Homo sapiens: one gene and its partners. The protein of the gene in region 3 interacts with the protein of the main gene of each other region in a biochemical or structural test. Each region holds a gene or a part of one and is shown on either strand. Other genes may lie near its edges. The genes, in order: DGKK, RASSF6 and RIMS2.

Evidence for each region.
Region 1: the proteins of RIMS2 (region 3) and DGKK interact in a test that uses a peptide from one of them, tested with the Homo sapiens proteins (one large-scale study listed by IntAct).
Region 2: the proteins of RIMS2 (region 3) and RASSF6 interact in a test that uses a peptide from one of them, tested with the Homo sapiens proteins (one large-scale study listed by IntAct).

The regions. Positions count from the first base shown.
Region 1 is NC_000023.11:50,380,255-50,383,908, reverse strand, and holds part of DGKK (diacylglycerol kinase kappa), read left to right. Parts: intron 1-1,305; coding exon 1,306-1,413; intron 1,414-3,654. UniProt on the Homo sapiens protein: Diacylglycerol kinase that converts diacylglycerol/DAG into phosphatidic acid/phosphatidate/PA and regulates the respective levels of these two bioactive lipids.
Region 2 is NC_000004.12:73,578,840-73,582,493, forward strand, and holds part of RASSF6 (ras association domain-containing protein 6), read right to left. Parts: intron 3,452-3,654; coding exon 3,350-3,451; intron 3,030-3,349; coding exon 2,978-3,029; intron 1-2,977.
Region 3 is NC_000008.11:103,499,067-103,502,820, reverse strand, and holds the start of RIMS2 (regulating synaptic membrane exocytosis protein 2), read right to left. Parts: upstream 2,212-3,754; 5' UTR 1,935-2,211; coding exon 1,759-1,934; intron 1,422-1,758; exon of another isoform or gene 1,133-1,421; intron 1,026-1,132; exon of another isoform or gene 911-1,025; intron 1-910. UniProt on the Homo sapiens protein: Rab effector involved in exocytosis. May act as scaffold protein. Plays a role in dendrite formation by melanocytes.

The DNA of each region.
Region 1 (3,654 bases), on a different chromosome or scaffold from region 3:
AGTGTTATATGCATTTGCAGTTATTATTGTTATTATTATAAATAATTAATAAATGTTAGTTGTTGTTATTACAGAGGACTTGCTTTTTTTCACTGTTGCCCTTAACAGTAAATGGTTGAAGATACTAAAAACTAAAATGGTCACTAGGGGACTAGGCAGCAAATCTAAGGACATCTGTCTCACCAGTTCTCCCTCTTTAGAATATCGGCAGCAGCCAAGTTCTGCCACACTCACTCATTCTGAGTTCCATTAAGAAGATCAGTTTGGACATTAGTTAGAGAAACTCCAATCTCTGGACTGTGGTTGAGGGAGGCAAATCTCATGTGAGAGATGTAAGGTCAGTATGGTAATGAATAAAAAAGTAATCTAAGATTAAACAGCTAAACTGTATCCATTTAATTTCTCAAAAGGACACAGCTAGAAATTATTTATGTTTTCTTAAATAATTTATTTAAGAAAACAATTTTTATTCCTGTCTCCAACCCGCATTCTTGCCCCCACACTTCACCATTGGCTCAAATTTATGTCTGAGCTCTCATGGATCTACCTAATGAATTTTGATCAATAGTGCACTGGCAAAGTGTTTAACAACCTCCTCTCTTGGGGGAGAAAGCCCTGATTCATTTATGGTGTAAACCCTTCCACCATGGCCTATTTAAGTTAGTGATATAATGCCATTGAATCTGGAGTTGGAAAGAGATATGCATAATCAGTTTACATGAGCTGGTGCCAACTGGCTATGGCACACCACTGGTTTTGATGCTGACACCCTAGATGGACACAGGAGACTTGACAAATAATTTGGCTTTTTTGTTATGTACATATCTACCCTCTTTTATCAGTCTTTCCTTCCAAATGTGTGGTCATTTTCCCCTTTGATGTCGGACATCACTGAGAGCAGTTGTGCAGACTTAACTGTCATGGCACGTTTGTGTCTAGGATATTCAAAAGTTCTTTATAGGAGTAAACAGTATTTCCCTTAATACTACATATGAAGAAAATATGGGCCACTCATACATAAGGCCTCCAAAGATGACTAAAATCATCAATGTTGCTTCTTTATTATGAGTTCCAATCCCACTGAAGCTTCCCAACTGGCGAGGCACTCCCTCTTACAGCTAATAAGCTAGTTGTTCACACAAAAGGATATCTACATGTGCCTCTCAAAAATGTTATAGTTAGTGCCCAGTGTGGAGGGGGCCTTCCCTCACTGGTTTTCCATCATGCAGATTCATCTTCATGCCCAATTGATAGCGGCACTTCTTTCCTGCACCAATGTCTGTCCTCTTCTTTGAATAATTTCAGACGCTTCAAAGAAAAATGTGTCATGAACAACTACTTCGGAATTGGACTGGATGCTAAAATTTCTCTGGACTTCAACACCAGAAGAGATGAACACCCAGGGCAATACAAGTAAGGAAAAGAAACTCCCTTCCCTACATGCAAACACACTATCACAATACACATACGTATTCCTACATTCTCTACCTCTCAGACAAGCAACAGAAAGAAAGGGACCCACTGGAAGTAAAATGCATTGGCCCCAAGACTAGTCTAGCGGGACAGTGTGTGCCAAATTTTGGATGACTGCACTGGCATCCTAAACTTGAGCTGCCTTCAAATCCAGACCTGTGGATTTCTGTGTAAACACAGCTACCTGTGTTACTGTTACTGACAACAGATTATGTTGACTCAATTTAGCAAATCGCCCACCTTTGTTCTGTCTGTGAAAGTTTAACCAGGTTTCAGTAGTGGCTTCAGATCTGTTTTCACTTGACAAAGTTGCAAAGTATCAAACATCCCTCTATTTGTTTTTGGTGTTCCTAACCTGGTTCCCCTGAACCCGTTAATTTTACCCTATCCAGTGTTGGCCTGCATGGCACCTTCTCGCACTTTCATACTTCAGACAAGGCCTAAGTCAGTCTCAGAGTTCTTGTGGTACATTGAAGCTATAAGTAAAAAGTGTGACACCCCACCCCACAACACCCCACCCTTGCCACCACCACTAGAACCTCTTTCTCAAAGCAGGCCTGGGCTGAGAAACAGGAACTTTGTCAGATATGTGATTTGCAAATATTTTCTCCCAGTCTCTTGCTGGTCTTTTCATTTTCTTAGTGGTATCTTTGAAATACAAAAGTATTGAATTCTAAGGCGGTCCAATTGATCAGTTTTTTTCTTTATGGACCATGCTTTTGGTGCCATCTGTAAGAAATCTTTGCCTAATCTGAGATCTTAAAAATTTGCTCCTAAGTTTTCTTCTAAAGTTTGTATTGTTTTAGCTCTTATTAATACATTTAAGTGTATGATCTACTTTGAGTTAATTTTTACGTATAGTGTGAGGGTCTAAGGTAAGAGTCTAAGTTTATCTTTTTGCCTGTGGATATCTAATTATCTCACCACCATTTTAATTTATTTATTTGTTTATTTTTTTTATTTTCTTGGAGACGGAGTCTTGTTCTGTCGCCTAGGCTGGAGTGCAGTGGCATGATCTCGGCTCACTGCAACCTCTGCCTCCTGGGTTCAAGTAATTCTCCTGCCTCAGCCTCCCAAGTAGCTGGGACTACTGGTGCATGATACCATGCTTGACTAATTTTTTGTAATTTAGTAGAGACGGAGTTTCACCATTTTGCCCAGGCTGGTCTCGAATTCCTGAGGTCAGGCAATCCGCCCGCCTCAGCTTCCCAAAGCGATAGGATTATAGGCATGAGCCACCGCGCCCGGATCTAGAGCCATTTTTCAAAACAGCTATCCTTTCCCCAGTGAATCGTGTTGGCACCTTTGTCAAAAATCAATTGACCACAAATGCAAGGGTTTATTTCTGGACTCTCACTTCTGTTCTATTTATTTATGTGTCTATCCTATGCAAGTACCACACTATCTTGATAACTATAGCTTTACAGTAGTTTTTGAAATTGGGAGATGAAAGTCCCCCACTTGATTCTTTTTTTCAGAATTGGTTTGTTCTAGGTATTGTACATTTTCATATACCTAAACTCCTATTTTTGTAGATGAGAACACCAAAGTGCCCAGAGAATGAATGGTTTAAACAGTGTCTCAATAATTTTGTGCTAGCCTTCTGACATTTCAAAACTCATTCCATGTGATGATGGCTCATTTCTGTGGCTCTACTTTACAAGCTCCAAGTAAACTATATCCAGCCTTTCTAGTGATCGTAAGTGCCCCACCTATTTCTATCAGAGATTCCACAGTCAACAAGACGCTGTCCTCCCCACCTCCACCTCAAGTCACCTGATATCCTTTCCTGTCTCCTATTTTTCTCCACTGGCTCCTCCTCTAAAATCTCCCTACAAGCTTAGATCTGTTCCATGGCATTGAATTAGGCATTTAGTATATGGATCTGGTGTTTGGAAAAGTACTTCACTTTGCCAGAAAAGTTGCTGCTTCAAAAAAAATTGCACTCTAAGAGTCACGTGTTTCAAATGAAATTGATTCCAAGCAGCTGAAATCTCCTGGAGTAGCACAACTAGGGTAGCTGGTGTGTACCAGCCAGCTACGCTCATAGCTTTTTATGAGCATTGATGTCTGAATATAGCCTGTTTCTTCCAAGTCTGGACCAATATTGGTAGCAAGCAGAAATGGAAAATTTATTTATTGATAGGATACTGAGGCTTCAAAGGGGCCCAGGAACCCATT
Region 2 (3,654 bases), on a different chromosome or scaffold from region 3:
GACCTCAAATGATCCGCCCACCTCGGCCTGCCAAAGTGCTGGGATTACAGGCATGAGCCACCGTGCCTGACACCCCCCTTCTCATCCTCTCATCTGCATTTCCCCAATCCCCCACCAGGTAATCTATCTCAATGGTTTTGTATTTATCACTCCATACCTTTCTCCCTAGTCATAAGACCATATATACCACATACTTAAATGGGAGCTTGTAACTGTTTAAAAAATGGGATCTTTTATATATACCTTTAGGCATCTTGCATTTCTCACTTAAAATATATTATGGAACTCCCTCCATTCTATTGGCATAAATCTACTCATTCCATTCAATGGCAGCCTAACAATCACTTATTTAATCATTTCCCTAGGATGAGTAACTTTGTCTTTAGCTTTTTGTCCTTATAAACAGTGTTACACATAAATCTGTAGGCACTAGTGCTTATATTTTTGTGGGATAGATTCTCACAAATGGAATGGTCAAGTTAAAGGACATATATACTGTAAATTTTAATAAATATTGCAAGAATAAATTCCAATAAGAAGAAAGTCATATTTTCACTAGTGTTGCATAAAAATATCTTTTTACCCTGATGCATGCCAGCCATGGGTAGAATCATTTTAAAGCATTTTGCCAATCTGAGAAGTGCAAGATAATATTACGGTGTGGCTTGAGCTTGCATTTCCTTAGCTACTTGCATTTCACTGAATTTAAGACTTTTCTAAAACTATTTAACTGGTTATTATGGTTTTTCCTTTCAATTGTATTTTCATGCTTTTTTCTATTTTTATCGGATTGTCTGTTGTTTTGTTACCATTTTGTAGGAAATTATTGGTATTATAGTTATTAATCTTTGGAGTACATTGACAATATTCTTTGTAATCTACTATTTGTATCTTTTAAATTGTTACACAGTCCAGTATTGCTACCATTTATTTTATATCTTTTGGTTTTCTTTCTTTCCTAAACAACTAGAATATGAATATATATGTGTCCTTAGAATTTTCCAAAAAATAGATCTTTATTTTATTTTATTTTATTTTTATTATTATTATACTTTAAGTTTTAGGGTACATGTGCACAATGTGCAGGTTAGTTACATATCTATACATGTGCCATGCTGGTGTGCTGCACCCACTAACTCGTCATCTAGCATTAGGTGTATCTCCTAATGCTATCCCTCCCCCCTCCCCCGACCCCACAACAGTCCCCAGAGTGTGATGTTCCCCTTCCTGTGTCCATGTGTTCTCATTGTTCAATTCCCACCTATGAGTGAGAATATGCGGTGTTTGGTTTTTTGTTCTTGCGATAGTTTACTAAGAATGATGATTTCCAATTTCATCCATGTCCCTACAAAGGACATGAACTCATCATTTTTTATGGATGCATAGTATTCCATGGTGTATATGTGCCACATTTTCTTAATCCAGTCTATCATTGTTGGACATTTGGGTTGCTTCCAAGTCTTTGCTATTGTGAATAATGCCGCAATAAACATACGTGTGCATGTGTCTTTATAGCAGCATGATTTATAGTCCTTTGGGTATATACCCAGTAATGGGATGGCTGGGTCAAATGGTATTTCTAGTTCTAGATCCCTGAGGAATCGCCACACTGACTTCCACAATGGTTGAACTAGTTTACAGTCCCACAAACAGTGTAAAAGTGTTCCTATTTCTCCACATCCTCTCCAGTACCTGTTGTTTCCTGACTTTTTAATGATTGCCATTCTAACTGGTGTGAGATGGTATCTCATTGTGGTTTTGATTTGCATTTCTCTGATGGCCAGTGATGGTGAGCATTTTTTCATGTGTTTTTTGGCTGCATAAATGTCTTCTTTTGAGAAGTGTCTATTCATGTCCTTTGCCCACTTTTTGATGGGGTTGTTTGTTTTTTTCTTGTAAATTTGTTTGAGTTCATTGTAGATTCTGGATATTAGCTCTTTGTCAGATGAGTAGGTTGCGAAAATTTCCTCCCATTTTGTAGGTTGCCTGTTCACTCTGATGGTAGTTTCTTTTGCTGTGCAGAAGCTCTTTAGTTTAATGAGATCCCATTTGTCAATTTTGGCTTTTGTTGCCATTGCTTTTGGTGTTTTAGACATGAAGTCCTTGCCCATGCCTATGTCCTGAATGGTAATGCCTAGGTTTTCTTCTAGGGTTTTTATGGTTTTAGGTCTAACGTTTAAGTCTTTAATTATAGATCTTTAAGCTTTCAATTATAAGAACTTTAATTTTATATATGTTTAGAGATACAGCTTTCATTTTCTTAAGGTGTTCTGGCATCAAAATGTATTATTTTATTCTAATAAATTTCTGGCTTGAACATTCTGACACTTAAATTATAGCATGAGTTTTTTCTACAAATTGATATATAAAATTTTTCATTTGTGAAGTTTTAAAAACTTTCATTTCAGTATCACTTTAAGTTTTCTCTATTCTCTCTATTATGCTCCTAGCATCCCACTTACAGCGCCTTCCCAATGTTCTGCTTCTAACCTTTCACCCCTCACCACGAAGTTCTGAATATGCATCTCTACTGAGGAAGAGATAGCACTCCCGCAATGTGTCAGACCCTGTGCTAAAAAAGAGGCAATATCAATGTCAGAGAGAACAGGTATGCAATCATGACTCCTCTAAGAGCAACACTCAGAAAGGAAAGCCAAAAAGAAAGTTACAGAGGTGAGCAAAGACAAAAGTGCCGAAACAGTTCCAGAGGGTTTTGATCTCCATTTAGATAATTTAATGTCTGGCCAACAAGCAAACTCTTTCATATAATCAACCCTTCAGGGATACCTTATTCTTAAGTTATCTTTCTTTAAAATTGTGGACTATAGATAATGTTCTAAAGACCACTCCTTCCTTTTCTCCTACCCATTCCTCCCCTTTCTCCACAGAATGAGGCAAACTGTTCTTCTGCCTTCCCCCTGGGCAGCAAACTGTAGCACTCTAGAGTCAGGTAAAAAGTGTGATCAAGCTTTCTTACCTCCTGTTGCAAAAATAATGTGAAGAGCAAAATCCTGGGGACTATTTTCAATCTGTCAAGGGAAAAAATGAACAAATATAAATTCTTTGTTGTTATATGATGTTTTCTAACCTGACCAGACCCAAATCATGTCTGTTTTCTCTCTTCCATTTTTCACTTTTAGACATAAAATCTTCTCTGCTCTTATGGGAATTATATAATTTTTCAAGGGATAGTTACTAAAAGGTGTTATACAAAGGAAAGAATCTTTCAGTGCTCAACATCCAATTTAGATTTACACCTTTATAGATCTGTTTCAGAAGAGTGGATTTGTGTGTTTATAGTTGAATTATATATAATATATTTATAGCTCAGTTAAGTGATAAAGGTTACCTTAAATTTTTGGAGAAGTTGCTTTATTACTTCTTCAGTTCTCATGTTACTGTTTACTCTGACCTTAGTTTCTGATTCAAAGGCTGGAATGAAAATTGATGTCTAGAAAAAGAATTGTCACATAAGTCTTTAAAATTATATTATATTAAGGGTATTCAATATCTTGAACATAATCTTCTTATAGGGCAAAAAAAATCCAAGGTCATTAATTTAAAAAATTTGTTTTGTTTTTGTTTGTTTTTCTTTGTTGTTTTTGAATATTATGTGTTCTTTTAAGCAGCTTTATATTGTTTCTAGAGTAAATT
Region 3 (3,754 bases):
AAGAAATAAAAACACATTTTACATTTAAATAGGTAAGTCAAAAAAATAAAACTACATTTTACTGGAGCATCATTTTGGCCGCACTGATTTTTATCAATTATAGTAAAAGGCATTAAGTTCACATATTTAAATATCAAACTGCAAGTCATCAAAAGCTTGGCATTGTTAGTATACAAAAAAAAAGTTAAGCACAGTAAGAAGTATGCTCAAAAAGCTTCTAAAAATAATGCTTTATTCTTCTATTAGTTAGAGTAAACTGCTTAAGTCTCTTAATTTCTTCATATCTGAAGGCTGTTAATAAATAACATTCCCAAATAAGTATTCAACGCCAGAAATTAGCTTTCATGAAGACATTCTTAATTTCAGTTATTTCAGGAACATATTTGCTCTTTTAGCCACTCAATATTTTGTGAGAAATAGTATCTTTCTCTAAGATTTGTGAATATTTGATGTTTGCTACTATAAATTATTTAAAGTGGTATTTTTCATTAAAATATGAAAATATATACCTATTGACAATGAAACCTGTTTCTTTATTAGTACATGAAAGACTACTAAATTCAACAACCTGCTTTTAAAATGTACCTGAATAGAGGTGAGTGTATTAGTTCCTTCACAGAGGAACTCTACACTTTCAATTGTATATTTCTGTGGAGAATATGGGAAACGTATACTTGACAAAACGCAAAAGAATCATCTGAATAACTCATTTCAAGTAAAAAGAAAAAAGCCAAGCTGGAAAAACATAAAAAGGTTACACATCTTCTGAATAACCTCTTTCACAAAGTAACTGAGAAATCAAATAACCATAAAACATTCAAAAGCAAACCTTGTAGAAACAAATCTCTTTGCTACGCTAACCAGAAAAGTAGTCTCAGAGCTAAAGATAACCCTGTCTGGACAGTTCCCTGGTGCTGAAGTTCCAGAGCCGGTAAACGCATGCCTGGGTGCTGCTTTCACTCCTACCACCCTCAGAAAAACCCGGCCTGCCAAGACCGTGAGCAAGAATAGTAGAACTTCACAAGGTAGGGAGCATCCCAAACTGCAGTGATGGTAGGAACTGGAGTCTCTTCAGGATTAAACAGATTTACTAGTTGCAAACAGGAAGAGCAGCAGAGTGCAGGGTGTTAGCACTCGCCGAGGGGGAGGGGCTGGAAGATGGCGGCGGACGCACACCCACCCGACCGCGACAGAGCTTAGGCCCCTAGCCCGCGCCGCCGCCCGCTGCTCGCAGCCACTGTGGGCAGCCCTGCTCTGTCCCGCGTTGCTGGTAGAGCCGCCCCGCGGAGGCGTGGGACCAGGGTGGCGTCCGCATCCCCTGCCAGCGCGCCTTCGCCCGGGTCCGTCCAGGGAGCACCTGTGCACGGCCATATTGGATTCTGTGCCCCAGTCACTGCCTCAGCGCGGCGGGAAAGGAGAGGGTACGCACAGAGCCTGGGTTCAGCCCCAGTCCCGCTGGGGCCCCGGAGCCAAGATGACCAGCGAGGAAATCCGGAAAGGCGCCAAGGAAAATCACACCGCCTAAGGCTCGCCACCCTCACCTCAGCCGGCCTTGGCGCCCTCCCTCCCCGACACACACCCCTGCTCTCAGACACCCCTAAAACAGCCCGGGCGGCCGGCGCTGGCCGCAGCCCTCGTGGCCTGGGCGCCGCCAGCGGGAGGGAGGGCGGCGAACTGGGGCGCGCAGGCGGCCGCAGGGCAGTGGGCGAGGGGGCGGAGGGCAGGGAGAGAGGCGGGAATATGGAGCCAGGTCCTTACTTGAGCACGGACTGCTCCTTCTCCTCTTCTTTCTTCTGCCTATCCATGACGGCCAGGATGATTTTCCTCTCCTCCTCCGTGAGGTGGCTGAGGTCAGGCATCTCGGGCTGCAGAGGCGGCTGAGAGGCCGCCGGGATGGGAGCCAGGCGGCCCCGGGGCCCGACAGGAGCCGACATGTTTGGTGGAGCCGAACCACCCTAGGGAAGCGGGGAGGCAACTCCACTGGCAGCGGCGGCACCGGCGCGGCGGCTGGGGCAGCCTCCAGCGCTGGGACAAATACATACAAATCAATGGCCTTCAATCCAAGGCGACAGCCCCCCTCCCCCAAGAAAAGCAGGGGGAGGGGAGGGCGAGCGCGTGGGGAAGGAGGGCTGAGGAGTGCGCTTCGGGAAATGTTTCTTCTTCCCGGGGGCGAAGGGCTGTGAAGTGAGCGGTTCAAGGGAAAGGGGAACTGGAGGCCGGGACGCGGAGTGCGCGGAGAGGCGGGGGAGGGTGGTGGAGTAAGGTGGCGGGGACAGCTAAGGGTGGGGTGACTGGAGGGAGCAGGCGGGAGGGCGACAGGCGGACCGGGGCGCGAGTGTGTCCGGCCGCGGTCAGGGCCGGGAGCGCGCGCGCCGCCTCGGAGGGGAAGGGGTGCCTGCGAACAAGCCCCCGGGGAACTCGCTTCGAGCGCCCGGAGGCGGAGTACTGCCGGCCCGAGGGGCACCCAGGCGGGAGCCGAGAGGGTCGTGAGGAAGCGAGGACGGTTTCCCGGAGAAGCAACTCATCCGTCCCGCCGGCTGACGCATCACAGGGCTCCCGCGCGCCACAGAGGGAGAACTCCTCCAGGCACACCCGGGAGCGGGCCGCGGGGCCGGAAACCCCCGCGGAGACCCCAACCCCACCCACCCCACCCCCGGCTAGAGTGGAGAAGCGAAAGCGGAGAAGATATGACGGGGGCTAGCGGCGGAGAGTCCCGGGGCCAGGGCCCTTCGGCTGCCAACGCCCGGATCCAGGCGAGCTCCGACGTGCAGCGGGGTCTGGCGCCGGCCCCTCCTCATCACGCGCCCGGCCCAGGGTCGCTCAGCCGCCGCCACCGCCGCCGCCCCTTGGGTCGATGGAGTCGGCGCGGAAGGCCCGCGCGCCCTGCGCCGCCGCCGCTCAGTGCCGCCGCCAGCACCTCCTCCGCCCCTCCGCCTCCCGGGCTCATCCCGCGGGGGCGGCGTCACCTCCTCGCTGCCCAGGCCCGGGCACCGCGGGCGCCCCGCGGGCGGCAGCCGCCCCTCCCGAGCGCGATCTCCAGGCTGGGTCCGGGGCCGGGCGGGGAGGGAGGAGAGACTGAGCGTGAAGGGAGAGGGCGCCCGAGTTTTCGGGGACGGAAGTGTGGAGAATAGGAGCGTGTGAGGGGGCGCCCGAGGTGTCGGGGGCGGGGGAAGAGTATGAGCAGGGGTGGGGGCAGGGGTGCCAGGTGTAGCAGGTAGGGAGGTAGAGGCGGCGAGTGGGGGCGCCCGAGGGACCGGGGCGGGGCGGGGAGCGTAAGGGTGGCAAGGCGCCCGAGAGTCAGGGCTGGAGCTGAAGGTGGGTGACAGGGAGGGGGCGCCCAGGTGTCAGGACCTGAGGAGAAAGAGTGCGCGTAGCGGGAGGGCCCCGAAGTGTCGGGGCGGGATCCTGGAAGGAGGGAGAACGTGAGGAGGGAGGAAGGGTCCCTGGGGTGTCAGGGATGGGGGCCAGGAAAGGGGCAGAGAGCTGGAGGCCCACAAGTGGGGATAGCGGGGGAGGGAGGTTGGAGCGAGTGGGGAACGCAGGTGGTGTCGAGGGCGGGGACAGGGCGAGGGGAGCGGGGCGTGAGGAAGTTGTGGGAAACCGCGCTGGACGCTGAGAATGTGCGGAAGGATCCTGAGGGGAGGACGCGAGACAGCGCGAGGAGAGACGAGGAGAGTTAGGGTTGGCCGGGAGGGTGCGAAGATGAAGCGACCACTGGAGGCTGTGAGGGTGAAAGGAGCAAGAATCGTCTAGA